Regions from separate parts of the Homo sapiens genome. Here region 2 is linked to region 1. A link means that fine-mapping ties the variant in region 1 to the expression of a gene that starts in the linked region. Tissue or cell type: whole blood. Region 1 holds a variant in brackets; the other region holds the start of a gene. All regions are shown on one strand. Distances are between the middles of the regions.

The links. PIP is the estimated chance that this variant, and not a neighbour inherited with it, causes the effect.
Region 2: it holds the start of APOL3, and the variant in region 1 is fine-mapped to the expression of APOL3 in whole blood (TOPMed, PIP above 0.99).

What each region holds. Positions count from the first base shown.
Region 1 is chr22:36,129,564-36,137,667 of GRCh38, reverse strand. No RefSeq gene overlaps it. Among named protein-coding and RNA genes, the nearest start is that of APOL3, 27 kb to the left of the region's middle. RefSeq lists enhancers at 2,266-3,465, 5,192-5,692. The variant C/T (reference allele first, on the strand shown) is at 3,879.
Region 2 is chr22:36,157,402-36,165,505 of GRCh38, reverse strand. It overlaps APOL3 (apolipoprotein L3), which reads left to right and starts at 4,751. Exons shown (of 4, transcript NM_145639.2): 1 at 4,751-4,837. RefSeq lists enhancers at 3,148-3,307, 3,259-3,832.

The DNA.
Region 1 (8,104 bases):
GCCATCCCAAGGAAAAAGGCAAATGCACTTGCCTCTTCCCCAGTGAGAGCCACACACAGCATCTCCACCTTCTGCATGCTGAAGTTATGTCACAGGAGGAGGGCCTCAGCACACGATCAATTTTTCTTTTGGTCCATTGGCAGCTTCTGTCTCAGAATTTTTGTGTGTGTATATTTGTAGAAAATAAAGAGGTACGGTCAAGGCTACAGCCACTACTGACCATTGCTGCCACCATCAGAAGTCTTGAATTGTTCCACTCAATGTTCCTCTTACTTATGGGCAAAGTCATTCTCGTGGTGTCTAAGCTCCTTGATGGTCTGGCCTCAGTAAGTTGGTGAAATTTCCTATTCACATTTACACTAATACTCTAACACTTTAGAGTATTACAAGGAGCAATCCTAGGGGATCCCTCAATTCCTCCTGTCCTGCTGTGTAATAACAACATGAGCTTCCCTGGAGGAACATGATGCATGATTATATCCAACCCAGTGACGTCATTGCTATCCCTACATCAGGGAGCATGAGAAGCCAGCTATGGTTTCTGCTGAAACAACTTTTGTCAACCTTAGATACTGAAACTTCCAGACCTAAAAGTCTGTGAGTTAGGAGTATGTATCATAAACAAAATTTTTGAAAGTGGTTTATTGTGGGTAACCATAGAGCTATCACCCTCATCTTAACCTCTGACTGCCCAGCTCCATGAATTCTGGCTATTACAGGAAATGGGGAAAATTCTGGGTATGGATTCAAAACATATCACATCCTAAGGGCAGCTCCCAGCCTCTGATATGGAGCTGAGTCCCCTTTGGGCCATTTCCATGGGACCTAAGGCTGTCATTTCCGGGGTTGAGATTCACTGGGTGCCAAGTGGTCAGCCTTGATGAGTGGGGTCCGTGTTGTGTGGTTACATAGAGCTCCACATTAGGCAAGTTGGTTAATGAGCCCATTCTGAAAATGTCAGGCTGCCTGGGGAACAGAGGAGATTTGAGCCTTAAAGAGTGACTTCTTCCCTTGTTTATTAACAGCCTCTGAGCCAGGCATGGTGACTCACGCCTGTAATCCCAGCACATTGGGAGACCAAGGCGAGTGGATCAGTTGAAGTCAGGAGTTGGAGACCAGCCTGGTCAACATGGTGAAACCCTATTTCTACTAGAAATACAAAAACTAGCCACCAGACATGGTGACGGGTGCCTGTAATCCCAGCTACTTTGGAGGCTGAGGCACGAGAATTGCTTGAACCTGGGAGGCAGAGGTTGCAGTGAGCCGAGATTGCACCACTGCACTCCAGCCTGGGCGATACAGTGAGACCCAGTCTCAAAAAAAAAAAAAAAAGAGTCTTTTTTGATGGTGGACATCTTCCAATGAGCATTCACATGGGACAGATTTTTTTTTAGTTCTACCGTTGTTCTGAAAGCTCTATGTATGTTCCTCTTCCCTAAAAATCTTTGTCACCAAGCCTCCAGATTTATTCCTTCTAAAATGTTGAAATTCCAGCTAATTCCTTAGTTGTTACCCAGGAAACAATGCAGATCCTGGTCCGAGGATGCAGCTCCTTCCAGGCAGCCTGGACTGTGAGGTGTGCTCCATTGCTCTTCAGGAACCGTCCTTGAGAGGCGTTCCACAGCAGGCCAGACCTGGGGGGAGCAGGTGGGCCAGGCGGAAAGCACAGCACAATTTGAGAGATGCTGAGTACTCATGACTCTGTGTAAGCACCTGAATTCAGCCCTCATGGTCTTTTCTGAGCTGTCAGTCATTTATCTCTATTTAGTCATTTTGCGAATTGGAGTTAGCTTCCTTCCCTCTACACTCAAAGACGGCATGTCAACATTTTAGGCCTCTGGGTGGAATGAACTCCCAGTTTCCTGGGAGGGAGCTGATTGGCATCTATTCGCCTCTTCCTAGTTTTGTGGGGTTTCCCAGCATGTGGAGTCATAGAGAAAGACTGGTCCCACCTTCTATGTAATGCCCAAGAGAATAGATGACTCTCTGTCCACCCCCACCCTGGCATCCAGGGCTTCTGGACAAGACCTAGGCTGGCTAATTGGCTGCTTCCACATGGGATCCTGAATCTGGAGCAAGTGAGGCAAAGCCCAGGGTGCTTAGAATCCATTCTCAGTGAGAGCAGCAGGACTGCCCGGGAGGGGAATAGAGACGGGGACGACCGAGTCCTGCACCAGCAGAGATGACGTCCGCAGGTGGCGGGGCAGCGCTGTGGCCGTGTCACTCCTCACAAAGCAGGGCTCTTGTGCTCGCAGCCTTCGATACCGTCTCACTGTCTTGGCTTCTATTTATCTTCCAAGCCAATTTCCAGCCTCCTACACACGTGGGGTTCTTCTGGTATCATTCCAGTGAATTTCATGTTGTTTTCTGCCCTAAGAAAACAGAGTTGGTACCTCTGCTCGACCAAGAAGCCTGATTGATACAGACTGAGAGCTGCAGGCTGTGTTTATTTGCTTCATTAACAAGAACAACTTAGGAATGGCAACTTCCATTGATGAGCTTCCTACTTTGTTCTGCGGTTGGAAAACAAACAGTTGTTTCCCTGTTGACGACTGGCCACACTGGAGAGGTGAACAGGTGAGTCACAGGAATCACTGCTTCTGCTCCCTTTAAATCTTGATGATGGCAGAAATCTCTGTAACTGCCTCTGTAACTCCTCCATGAAGTTGGTGTTGACTTTGAGTAAAATATTTAGGCAGGTATGTAAAACCAATGGCCTCCACTGGCGTATGTCACTGAAATAGTCCCCGTCCGTGGGTCTGGGTGAACAATCTGAAGCTTCCAAGAGTATTCTTTCCAGTTATCCACCCAGGAATTTGAAAAATGATGACCAGGTGAGGGTGGGACCCTGATGGACTTAATCAAAGGTAAACGAATATAGATATTCACTAATTACTTGTGCCCTATAATCTCCCCCTCTGACCCAGGCCTAAGAATTGGGTGACAAGCAGGGACTATCCAGCCTGATGACCTGTGACAGGTATCCACTCACCAGATTGGGGGTTTTGTAAAGTCAGTGGACTGTCTTCCAGCTCTATTTTGGAACCTTGTTCCTATCAAATGTCCCTTGAGCCATGATCATGCGCCCTCCTGGTGCGTGACCTGGCGCCCGCACTCTCTTTTCTTCTGGCAGTTACCTGCCTCCCCTACAGTCGGCCTCTTGGAATTTCTCCCACCCTAAAGAGACCAGAGTCCCAGCCCCTCCCCTATTATAGAGAGTTCCTGGTTATCCATTGACTCTTCTCGTTAAAGGAGCGGGAAATCTTTTGGGCCCTGGCAGGAAACAGCGTGGGCAGGAAGTGCTTGAGAAATCAAATCTAGCATTTCAGCCTCCTACACACTTTGAGTCCTCCTTCTTCTTCATCATGCCAACTAATTTCTGGCTTTTTATGTCACAAAGAAGTGATCAGCATTTAGTTGAGGGTGGCATGGCTAACACTGGGCACAGCTGGAATCCCAGCCTGCTGCTGGAGCAAACCGTGCCAGCTGAGGATGACCATGGCAAGGAAACCAAATGATGATTCCTCTTCCTTGCCGACCTCCGTCAGACCCCACCATGCAAATAAATGGTCTTCAGCTCTTCGGAGCTTTGACAGCGAGCTCTTTCTCCTGCTGCAGCATCTCACTCCTTTCCATTCTGCAGTTCACTCTCAAGGCCATACTGACTTGAACACTGGCTGTCTAGAAACAGAGAGGCAGGCAGCGGCAGACAGGAAGAGAGATGGAGCAGAGTCCTCCAGCGGGAGCTGCACCTCGGAAGCATCCTTAGATGCGGCTTGGAGTTGGGATCCTTCAATTCCCCTCAGGTATCCCTATTGCAATTTTCTGAATACATCTTGTGTTAGGCTAAATAACAGCCCCTGACAGATGTGGGTGTC[C/T]TAATCATAGGACTTGTGATTATGTCACCTTCCATCATAAAAGGGACCTCACAGGTGTGATCCAGTCAAGGATCTGGAGATGAGAGGTTATCTGCGATTATCTGGGTGGGCCCAAGGTATCCACAAGGGTCCTTATAAGGCGGAGACAGTAGGGTGAGAGGGAGAAAAGGAGATGAGATGATAGAAGGGGAGAGAAACTGAGAGAGATCAGAGGATGCTACAAGGCTGGCTTGAAGACGAAGGGAGAAGCCAGGAGCTGAGGACAGCAGGTGCCTCTAAAAGCTGGAAAAGGTAAGGGAATTGCTTCTCCCAGAGCCTCCCCAAGGAATGCAGCTCTACCCATGCCTTGATTTTAGAACTCTACTGGAAGAGAACAACTTTGTGTTGGTTCAAGTCACTGTGTCTGTAGGGCTTTGTTACAGCAGGAGAGGTACTAGCACACCACTCTGTCCCCATCAGGGCCCTCATGTGCGCTTAGAAGATCTAGTGAGGATGAAATTCATCATGTAACCAGAAACCTATAGAAACGGTTTCTGAATTTGTTTTTCATAGGAGAGTCAGCCAAAAATATCAACAGCCACAATTTATTGGACGCCTTCAGGAGAAATGTCAAAGGCCTTTGTCCAAAGTGAGTGGTCCTGCTTCATGTCCCAGCATTCCTTGTCCCCTTTCCACAAGCTGAGAGCAGGTGCTCCCCAGAATGAGGGGGGTGAGAAGGGTTCACTATTGCTCTGTCCACCTCTCAACACAAAACATGATTCTACCTGTACCAATTATCCTGAGGCTTTGTGGTCTGCAACCAACCCTTTGGTGCCAATTTTTCTATTAGGTAGGACCCTTTGGATGCAAGTAGAACATAGCAAAGCAAAACCAAGACAAAAGCAAATGCAAAAACAAAAACAAATGAAAAATCTTAAAAAATCTTCCCGCTACCTCAAGAGTGGAGGCATATATTTGAATGATCCAGAGAGAAAGCTCACAGAATTAAAGAAATCCTTGGGTGGGTGGGCGTGCGTGCACATTTTTTAAAAACAGGCTTAGGGAAGACCAGGGACCCAGAAAGCCTCAGGGCTCTCAGCGGTAGGGAACGAGCTACACTCAAGGCCTCAGCTCCACTGCCTGCTGCCTCCAAGGGTTTTCTTTCAGGTCCTCCAATTTCCAGGGGAGAGACTCAGATGGGTCCCGGGGGCTAGAGGACAGAGTAAAGAAGGCACTGTCACACCAGGGGGATGTGAGCTGAGCAGGCAGGCCCCCTAACCTGGGCCTTTTCGGAAGCCCCCTCCTCATCCCCGTGGGAGCAGTGGGGGAAAGGGGCCTCTGCCCCCTGCCCACCTCCCTTACTAGTGTCTCCCTAGCTGCTCCCTGCAGAGCCTAGGCTCTGCAGTCATGGGGTCCGCATTGTCCTGGTGGGTGGAGTGCCTGAGCCTCAAAAGCCCCACCTGTGCTTTTCACTCCCTACTGCATGATTGAGAAGCAGACCTACTTCGCGATTGAGAAGCAGATTAAGGCTTTCCCCTTCCCCATCAAGGTATCTTTTTTTCTTCCTTCTTTCTTCCTCAGACCCCATCTGGTGTCCCTTCTCTCCTCCTCTCCCGCTCCATTCACCTGCCCTCTGTCTCAGGTCTCTCTACCAGCGTCTGGCAGCTGGGGAGGCTGGTGGGCTGCCCTGGTCCCATGGCTGATTGGAAAAATCCTGTGGCTCCAGGGAGCCGGCTTTTTAGATGCTGGTGGGGAGGAGCCTCACCTCGCTTCCAGGCCTGCGTTTCACCCCAGGACTCATTAGGAGAATTTCTGCACCAGGGTTAGAAGAGAATTCATCGCATGTTTTCCCTACTGTAATAAGCGAGACCCTTCTTTCTTTCCTTGTGCCTGGCGACCACAGCAGGAAGGCAGGAAGGTGCCTGCAGATTCCCAGGAACAAAGCTGCTCCCAGAACCCTCACATAGTAGGGTGACTCTTAGGATAAGAAATGTATATCCACGGGCTAGGATTTGGGAACCAAGGGACGACGTGGCAATCCAGGGCTCGTAGTGAGGGTGCAGCAGCCAGGACTGGGGCAAAGACAGATGTCTGATGATTGTAAAATGAGATGATTTCTATTCAGTTCAGTTCTATGTGAGGCTGTACTCAAAAGAGGTGATGTTGTTATTCAGGCTTCCTAATCTTTGGTGAGTAAAACAATTGTTGATTCCCACAGCTTGTTTTCTTCTTGCCAGCTTTCTCCCATCGTGTGATAGACCAAAACCTTGAACTGGAAAATCTCTGTGGTGTTCTACAAGAGCTAGGGACCCTTAGGTGTGAGATTTGGAGACTTTCAATGGTTAGACTTGGCCTAAGCAGCAATAGATCAGTCACCCCAAATTCTCTCCTTTGTCTTCTTTTAATGTCGTCCTCCATCAAGGAAGGAACCAGATTGGGGCCAACCTTTCAGACGGATGTCCATGGGATGCTCGAGCTGCCTTTCCCCAACAAGTGGTGTCAACAGGGATCTGGAGAGGTCGTGTGCTGGCCTCCAGGGGGTACCCCAGGGAACGGTGGGATGTGAGAGTGACAGACCAGGAGGATGGGGGCCTTTATCAGTCAAGTGCTGTTCTGTCCCCACCATCCTTTAGCTGGTGAATAATCTCAGGGGGATTATTAAAAGCCCAGAAGCAAAGAAGCATTTGAAAGGTCCGTATCTAGGAGTCTGGTTTCTCAGAGGATCAGGGAGGGATAAGATTGGCTAAAAGACAGATTTGGGACTTACTATCAGAAAAGAATCACTAGGAAAATCTAATATTGGTACATGGAAAAGCAACATGTGGATTGAATGATGGGATTTCCTGTGAAGAAAAGGTAAGGCATGCAAGCCAGACAGGACAGAATGATGGGCGAAAATCAAGCCACGCACCTCAAACTCCTCTCGAGCTGAGATCCAGAAAGACAGGGGCATGGAATTGCTGCTGGGTCTGGCAGGGGGCAAGAGCCAAACAGATGAAGGGTACATGTGACTGCCATTCAGGGCCACGATAGAGGAAATGATCAGAAGTCACTTTCTAGAGGCTGTAGATGGGAGTTTGATAAGGACCATGGGGGACAGCTGAGATCTGGGCAGATTTGAGAAGGGAGAGCAGAACAGACTGCGTCAAAAGTGGATCCGTGAGTTTCCTGGCGACCCAGGTATAGAAGGGATGCAGGAGTGGCCTGTACTTTCAGAAGCACATGCAGGAGGATGCTGGTCTGGGACTGGAGATGAAAGAGGTCCAGAGAAAATGGGACACGCTCAGACAGGGGAGCTGTGGGTGGAGTTCAGGACAAAGTCTGATGTAAGGCTCATGGAAGACCTTCCTGAAGGAATTGCCCCTCTCCAGGAAGTAAGGAGGGTGGATTTGTTTCCACAGTGGGAATTCCTGGCAGGTCCAGAACTTCTTGACTTTCTGTCTCTCAATACTGTAGACCTGCAAGATGGATAACAGAGGCATTAGGGAAACTGATGCCTACGCCACAAAGTTTAAATACAGCACAAGGAAAGAAGCTACTTTGATCCAGAAAACACTGCTAACCCCATCCAAGACTGAGATGGAGCAGGGCCCTATGGGGTGAGATAAGCGTCTGAGGAGCAGGCTGCAGGGAGGAATGTTCCAGCTGCCACTGAAGCAACACACGAGGCTGAGGCTTGAAAGCTCAAAGGCCGAGGGAGCCGTAGCTTTGGGAAGGAGCAGCTGATGGGGACGATGGGTCACCTAAGCCGAGCTGTACCCTCGTCTGCTCCACCTCGAGTTTGAATTCAACAAGTCTATTGCTCCAGTGTTTTCTGAATTATCTGCATATTCAGAATTCAGCCTGCGGAGCCTCAGCTCTTCTGAATATTTAAATGACGCTCAGTTGCGATCTGCATCTCTCATCATGGTGTCTGACCCAAAGATCACAAAGCTGAAGTCTAGCAAATGACAGGAAGAACTAAGAGAAAGTGCTGCTGCAAAAAGAGTTTAATGAGAGGTAAATGGGAGGGAATGTTGGCCGGAGACCACAGAATGGAAGTGGAGAAACAGATGATTCATTCATTCATCCAATCATTCATTTATGAAGCACTCATTGACACCCCTTCTTCTTCGTGCCTTGCACTCACTGAGATCTATAACAAAGATGAGTCAGAGTCCTGTCCTGTGTGGAGCTCAAAGTCAAGATGGGGCACACACACAGATGACAATGCCATGGGACACAGGCTTCCAGTCATGGCTTCTCCA
Region 2 (8,104 bases), 28 kb before region 1:
TTTCCACCAGTCAAAGCCTCCTGAAACTCTGTTTTCCATTAACTTGTTGGCCCTGTCTGTAATTTTTTTAAGTTGGTTTGCACTTTACCTGATTGGTTGATGAAAACAGCAATGTTTATCAAGTGTTGCACAAGCTCCCCCTTGATTGGCTGTGAGCAAATTAAAAGCTCATCAATTTCATAAGACTATGCTTGCTAATGAAGCAATTTGTTCTGAAAGGGTATTGACCTGGTTAGTTAGATTAATAATTTGTTGAGTAATTTTTAAGAAGAGTTTCTGGGCAGTAAAAATGGAGTTAAGGAGGTCCTCCAGTTCCCGTGCCAATACCAGCCAGAACGCCAATTATAGTCAGTGCTGTTAAAACTCCTCTTTCAGTTTTACCAGATTGAGCGTGTATAGGGAGGGGAATGCTATCGATAAGAGTGAGTTTGGGGATGATGTAAACTAGGGCCAAATCCCCGTTTAATTAGCAGACAAGCAGAGATATGCCTTGTTTCTATACAAAAATGTGATTTGTCATGTTAAGACAAATATCAACAGTGATACTAAAGTAGGGTTTTTCCATGCTGTGTAAGTCTGCTTTAATACCCTCAGAAGTGGAAGTCAAGGCTAGTTCATGTAATGGGGGAACACAGGCAGTACTTGACAGAATGAAAGAGGAATCAAAAGCCCAATTAGAGGAAGGAGTGATGGGATCCCAACCAATATTGTGAAATTATGGGGAGCTGCAGTTTTTTGCAATGATTTTGCCCGAAGTTGTGAGACTGAAACCAGAAGTTGTTATGTTTAAAATGATATTCTGGTGTGGGTCTGGGGAAAAGGGTAGATCCAGAATAGCTGGCTTCTTTCCACATAGTGGTTCTGTTGGGGGGCTTGGGAAATGAATAAAACACAAAGAAGAATTAGAATATCAGGTATGTTTGCATTTTTTGTTGTCAGTGACTAAGCTGACACATAATTGGGTGGAAAATAGGGTACAAGTGTGATTGCAAGCCTTGGAAATATTAGGAAAAAATCCAAGTAATGGCCTCATCCTCAATGAAGATAGAAGACAAAGGAGTGCTTAGTCAGATAGTATTACAGATAGACGACAGGTCCTCGGAGGTTGTAACAGGTTTGTTGGTATAGACTTTTAAGGAGTATGCAATTGACTGTGGGCTCGACCCTAGGATTGACAGCTTATTCTGGTCGGTTAACAGAAGTGGGGGCTGGAAATGTTTCTGATTGATTCCACTCAGAAGCAGGAATGGAAATGGCTGATAGACCTCTGCTAGGGAAGGTGTAAACACAGATTCAACAGTTTCTGTGATGTTGTGCAGTCCGTTGATGTTGTGTTTAAACAAGGTTTTAAAACTTCTTTGATGGTAGCTAAATATGGGTGTTGGAAAAAAACATTAGGAGAAATGATTGCAAGGGTTAATCTAGTTTAAAAAGCAAAAATATTGGTTACTGCATTTAAAACAGCTATTTTAGCATAAAAAATTATTTCACCCATTCAGGAGGAGGCAATTGAACTGCAAATATATGAGAATAACTATAACAATCCAACTTAAAGCTAATATTTAAAAAAAGGCACTAGGGAAAGTCAGTGGGCATTACTTATTTTTTGGCAGTCTTTTAAAGAGAGGCTTGAGGTCCACTAAAGTCTCACAAGTGTATTTGTCTGTGGAGACATCATCAGTTTGGGCAGCCCTCTGTGGTTTTACATAGGAGTGTGGATGCAGCTGGCAATCCAGAATACACAGCACTGAGATCAAGGTAGTCTCGACATCCCAATATCCTTGACCATTACCAGGAGAGAGTGTCCCCTGCTCTTTAGATGGAGGCTCCGCCTCCCCTGGGGCAGTCTGTGTGTCTCTCAAGTTGTACCTATGTGTGGACCATGGCTGTGCCCAGCATGGAGACCCCTTCCTACAGTGGGTACTACAGCCTTGCTGAAAACATTTGTCCCCTAGATTCTGAATAAAAGTGGTTAGAAAGAAAGAAAAGAAATGAAGCTCTGTTCAAAAGAAAAAGGAAAAAAAATTGCAAAACGATCTTCAGAAGCTGTGCTGCTGCCTATGGCAGTGTGGCAGGGAGGGGGCCTCGGGTGGGGTGAGTGCCCAAAAGGGTGGGCGAGGACGATTTGGGGAGTTCTCCAAAGGTTATGACCCACTATGGGCCTACCCTTCGTTCCCGGCTGTAAACCTCTAAACTTAGCATTTATCCAAGCTATCCCATGATCTGAATCCCAATCGGCTCTCTTAATCAGTAATTTTAAAAATTGCATCCAGCCAAAATGCCCAGTCTAAAGGGAGTTGAGGGTGATTCCTGGCTCTGTGGCCAGAGCATAAGAAACCATTTTGCCTCTCAAAGCTTCCCTGGGCTGTTAACAAGCTCTGGGCTTCAATGGCCACTACAACCTAATGAAGTTGTTTAATCACGTTAAACAGCTAATTAAACCTAAATCCAGAGAAGATTTCTCTAAGCCCTTCTCTAAAAGTTATTGGTGGCATGTTGGGGGATATACCCCCTCTCTAATGCAGCAAATACAACACTCATTGCAACTTCTCTTAGCCAAGCAGCGAAACATAGCACAAACATCTTGACCCAAAGCGAAAGGAAGCATTTTAGCAAAATATGTTTCAGTTCCCCAAGCTAAAATCAAGCACATATTAAAAGCCATGCTGAACGTAAATCATCCAGGTCACAGCACTAAGATATTACCAGGAATTCTGCGCTGGGATGGATCCTTTAACTGAGGAGATTAACAGAGCTGGAGTTCTGGACCAGTAATCTCAGTTCTTCTGAGAGTGAGCAAACAATTGCAGGCTAACTCCAAAATGCAAGCTCAAAGCAAAGTGTATTGAAGCACAGTTAGACACTCTCAGAGGGACAGTGGGCTAATTTCTGTGAAGTGAAGTCAGCCCCTCTATATAGAGTTTAAGGTGCTTCTGTGCGGTTTGTGGAGAGAAGTTGAGGTTGGGGCTGTGTCTGAGTAAAGGACGATGTCATCTGATTGGCAGTTTATGGTTATATAACTAAAATTAGGCAATGCATGTTTTTACCCATAATTTTCACAGAAAAGCCCACTCTGGGGCTTTTGTATAATAAAACCACATTTTATTATAATGATGGTATAATGAACTTGGGGTGACCTGAGGGCACAGTTTCATGTTACTGGGCATGTGCCCCTTTAGGGAATTTCCACCTGTGCCCTAGTTTCTCTTTCTTCAGGATGTGCTGGCCACAAACTATACCACCAACTTCATCAGTTAGGGGGGTCTTAGAATGGCTCTGGGGCTGAACTTAGGTGGGCCAGGAGCTGTTGCAGTGACAGGCTTTCTGCTCTCTTTTCTCCTCCCAGCTGCTAATGTCTACTTAACTGCCTGTTGGGAGCTGAAAAGGCCAAAGGGATTGTGACCAACTCAGCATTTCACTGGAGGCTATATGATCAAACAGCAAACTGTTTATCATGAATGCGGGATGTGGGTAAACTCACACTGCACCCGCCGCCAGAAGGTTTCCTGAGGGCCATCACTCCCTGGTGCTGGGCTCCTTGAAGTTATCTGTTGGGATATCTAGCACCTATTATTTGAAGGATGCAGTCTTGCAAGCCTGCTGTGAACCAAACGGCTGACTGACAATTACCTGACAATCACCCCCCCACCTTTTTCTCGTCATCTCTTTTACCTAATAAACTCAGAGAGCTTGAAAAGCTCAGAGCCCTTGTTCACTAGAAGCAAGGAACCCCCTGACCCCTTCTTCCTAATATACTCTTTTGTCTTTGTCTTTTACTCCCACATCCGCCCCCCACTTTGTTCAGTCAACCTGGGACTGTGGCCAATTACAACAGCCTAACAAAAGTGCCACAGGAGTGGAACATGGGGCAGTGGGCTCTGCTGAAGAGGATGCTAGGGGGCTTCTCAGGGGAGGAAATGCTAGATTTGCATTCTGATAGAGGAGCGTGACTTTTCCAGGTGAAGGTAGCAGGTGCTCCTGGCAGAAGAACCCACATAAGGAAGTGTCCAGAAGCCACACAGGTATGGCGTTCGACAAGAGCAGGTCTGGAACGGTGGCTCATGCTGAGGCAGGAGGATCATTTGAGGCCAGAGTTTGAAACCAACCTGGTAAAAATAGTAAGATTTCACCCCTTCAAAATCATTTTTTAAAAGTAGCCAGGCCGAGTGGCTCATGCTTGTAGTCCCAGCTACTCAGGAGGTTCATTTGAACCCTGGAATTTGAGGCTACAGTGAGCTATTATTGTGCCACCGCACTCCAGCCTGGGTGACAGAGCCAGACCCCATCTCAAAAACAAAACAAAACAAAACAACAAAATAACCCCAACAGCAATACAATCAATATGCAATAAGCGTCCACCCGGCATGTGTGATGGACTGTGGTAATGCTGATGGCATGGAGGGAGTGAGGTGGGCATCTGGGGAGTGTGGTGTTATTGGGGGTGGGGAGTAATCTGGAGGGTCTCATAGTCTTTCAGTGGTAGGTCTTTCTTCCTGAAGACACAGCAAACCCCCAACCCTAAGTATGGGAGGCAGGTGGGTTGGCCAAGAAGGACGTCTGGGGCTGCTCTTGGATCAGCAGGAGGGTGGGACCAAGGGTGCTGCTGGACCAAGGATGGGACTGGGCCAAGGGTGGGGCTGGGAAGCATCCTGTTTTGCATGTTTGATCAGGAGCTGCTGCCAAGTTGTGACTTTCACTTTCCCTTTTGGGTTCCAGGGTATATCTCAGAGCCTGGAGAACGTGTCTGGTTATTATGCAGATGCACGGCTGGAGGTGGGATCCACACAGCTCAGAACAGCTGGATCTTGCTCACACTCTTTCAAGAGAAGCTTCCTTGGTAAGTTAGGGGTGGTCTGACCTTCCCCATCTCCCCATCCTCACAGCAGCTCTATAAGAGAAGGGTCATTCACCTTTTGTAGATGAGCTCAGAGAGGTTAGGTAACTGACTGAGGTCACATCTCGGTCCATGGCAGAGCCTGAATTTGCACCCAGGTTTTAGCTGGACTTCTCCCTCCCTCTCTCTGGGCCCCCAAACAGTAGAGACAGAGGCAGAATCAGCTCAGCTGGGTTCACAAAGCTTCCTAGGGCTCAGCTCTAGTTCCAGCCTGCGTGAGACATGGCCCGGTGACCCCAGAAGGAAGGCAGATGTTGGGACTGTCCATTCCTTTAGAATATTTGGAGGAACCAGAGAAGGTGGAGGACAGGAGGTGATCCAGAGCCTGGCCTGTCCTTCTTGTGGCCTGGCCACCCTGAGGCTGGCCCCAGGGTGCTGCTGCTGAGGCCCGATGGGGACAGAGGATTTCCTTTGAGATACAAGGAACCTGGCTGGGCGCGGTGGCTCATGCCTGTAATCCCAGCACTTTGAGAGGCCGAGACGGGTAGATCACTTGAGGTTAGGAGTTCGAGACCTGCCTGGCCAATATGGAGAAACCCTGCCTCTACTAAAAATACAAAAAATTAGCTGGGCGTGGTGGCACAAGCCAGTAATCCCAGCTACTTGGGAGGCTGAGGCATGAGAATCACTTGAACCCAGGTGATGAAGGTTGCAGTGAGTCGAGATCGCACCAGTCACTCCAGCCTGAGTGCACTCCTGACAGAGTGAGACTCTGTCTCAAAAAAAAAAAAGAGAGAGAGAGCGAAAAGAGATAACAAGGAACCCAGAGGTTGTTTCACCCACCCTGACTCTGAGCACCTACTTGAGCCAGGCCCTGTGGGTAAACTGAGGCCATGGGAGATGAGTGACTCGCTGAGGGTCCCATGTCAGGAAGTTGAGCAGGTAGATCACAGGACTCCATGTCCCTGACACTCACCTGGTTCCTTTTCAGGCCTCTGGGTGATAGAGAAGAAAGAAGCTGTGCTGTTCCCTAGTGGGAAAGATGGCCCAGACAGGGGCAGTGAGAACGGCATGTTGCAGAATGGTGTCTGCCACATGATCCCAGCTTGACAATCATGAGATTAAAAGTCAAACTGTGGAAGCGTGAGCATAACTGTGGGAGCGTGAGCTTAGCCCTCTGTGTTTGTAGAAGCAGAAACAAACCTGGAAGATTTTGGATTATTAACATTATACTTTCTTGCTTCAATGTCAGAGTCAGGAGGTCAGGTGTTGACCTTCCCCCTGCCCTCCAAGAGGTGTGTGACACTGGGGAAGTCACTTCCCCTCTCTGAGCCTCAGGGTTTTTCACCTGCCTTAGGGGGTTAGGATGCCCTACCCTGCTGACCCCCAGCAGGCTGCTGACCCCATCTGGGGTGAGGTGGGAGGCGGGGCAGTGCGAGTCAGGGGAAAGTTGACATTGCAGCCCAGATGCCTGCAGGGGCTGCAGGAAAGTGGGGAGAGCTGGAGGCCTGCATGGGCTTCTCAGATCCAGGTGATGCCCAGCAGGTGAGAGGGTGGGCCTGGCTCCTCAGAGCTCAGATGACGGAACATTTGCTATAAACTCAGGTGCAATTACATTTGACATGCTGGCAACCAAATAAAAGGCAAACCTTGCATATGCCACACACACACTCACAAATTCACACACACACACACACACACACACGCACACTCACACCTGCTATTCAGATTTCACTTCATGGAGCCCTGTGTTTCTCACCTCTGTGTCGTGGCCTCGAAGGGTCTTTGATTCTGTGCAGCTTCTTTTCCTCCTCATTTCTTTAAGGGAGGCATCGCATTCATTAGTCTTTTTTTTCTGACGGAGTCTTGCTCTGTCGCCCAGGCTGGAGTGCAAGTAGCACCATCGGCTCACTGCACCCTCCGCCTCCTGGGTTCAAGTGATTCTCCAGCTCACCCTCCTGAGTAGCTGGGACTACAGAGGCGTGCCACCACGCCCGGCTAATTTTTAGTATTTTTAGTAGAGACGGGGTTTCACCATGTTAGCCAGGATGTTCTCGATCTCCTGACCTTGTGATCCACCCACCTCCGCCACCCAAAGTGCTGGGATTACAGGCATGAGCCACCGTGCCAGGCGCATTCCTTAGTCTTAATGGGCATAGTGTTAGGGACCCGCCTACTCCCTATGGCAGGAGATTTAGTGATTTCTCCCTTTTTGGTGATAGAAACAACGCTGCATGGCACCCTCTAAAGCCCCTGTCCCTGCACACTTGCCCTCTGCTCCCTGGAGGCTGAGACCTAGGAGTGGGTGCTGTGCCATGACGTGGGGGCACTTTGTAAAGTGTGCTGAGTATCGCTGACGATCCTCCAGGACACCAGAACCTTTCACACTCCATCAACAGTGAAGGGGCTTGTGCCACCTTTACCTCCCTAACAGTGGACATTATTAGTCACTTTAGGTTTGGCTTATCTAATGTTTCAAAAACGTATGTCTCTGTGATCACTTACATATATGGTTCAAAAGTGAGCTTGAGTGCCTTTTCATATGGTTAACGTTAATTTCTATTTCTTCAGATCCTATCTTTTACCCATTTTTAAATTTTATTTATTTATTTATTTATTTATGAGATGGAGTCTGGCTTTGTTGCCCAGGCTGAAGTGCAGTGGCGCAATCTCAGCTCACTGCAACCTCCACCTCCGGGGTTCAAGCAATTCTCCTGTCTCAGCCTCCCAAGTAGCTAGGACTACAGGCGCGTGCCTCCACACCTGGCAAATTTTGATATTTTTAGTAGAGTCAGAGTTTCACCATATTGGTCAGGCTGGTCTCGAACTCCTGACCTCAGGTGATCCACCCGCCTTGGCCTGCCAAAGTGCTGGGATTACAGGTATGAGCCACCGCACCTGGCTATATTTTTAGAAACTTGATTTCAGTCTTTTCATGTTGATTTGAGCATTTCTTGTGGATTGTGGACAGTTACCTTTGCTTTAAGTATTGCAAACCGTGCTTCCTATTCTTTCATTTTATTCTGGCTCTTGAATGATGTTCTTTCTAATTTTTAATTTGTAAGAGGTAAAACTCTATTCAATTTTCCCTTTAAGTCTTCTGGGAATTGAGTTTTGATTCGAAAGGTCTTCCCAACTCAACATTGTTTTTAACATTTCTTCTAGTATAGTTTTAATTTTTTCTTTCTGGGGTACACTTAGATCCCTTTGGGATTGATTTACTTATTTTTGGAGAAGAATTTGTTTCTTCTTCTTTTAAATGTAGGACCT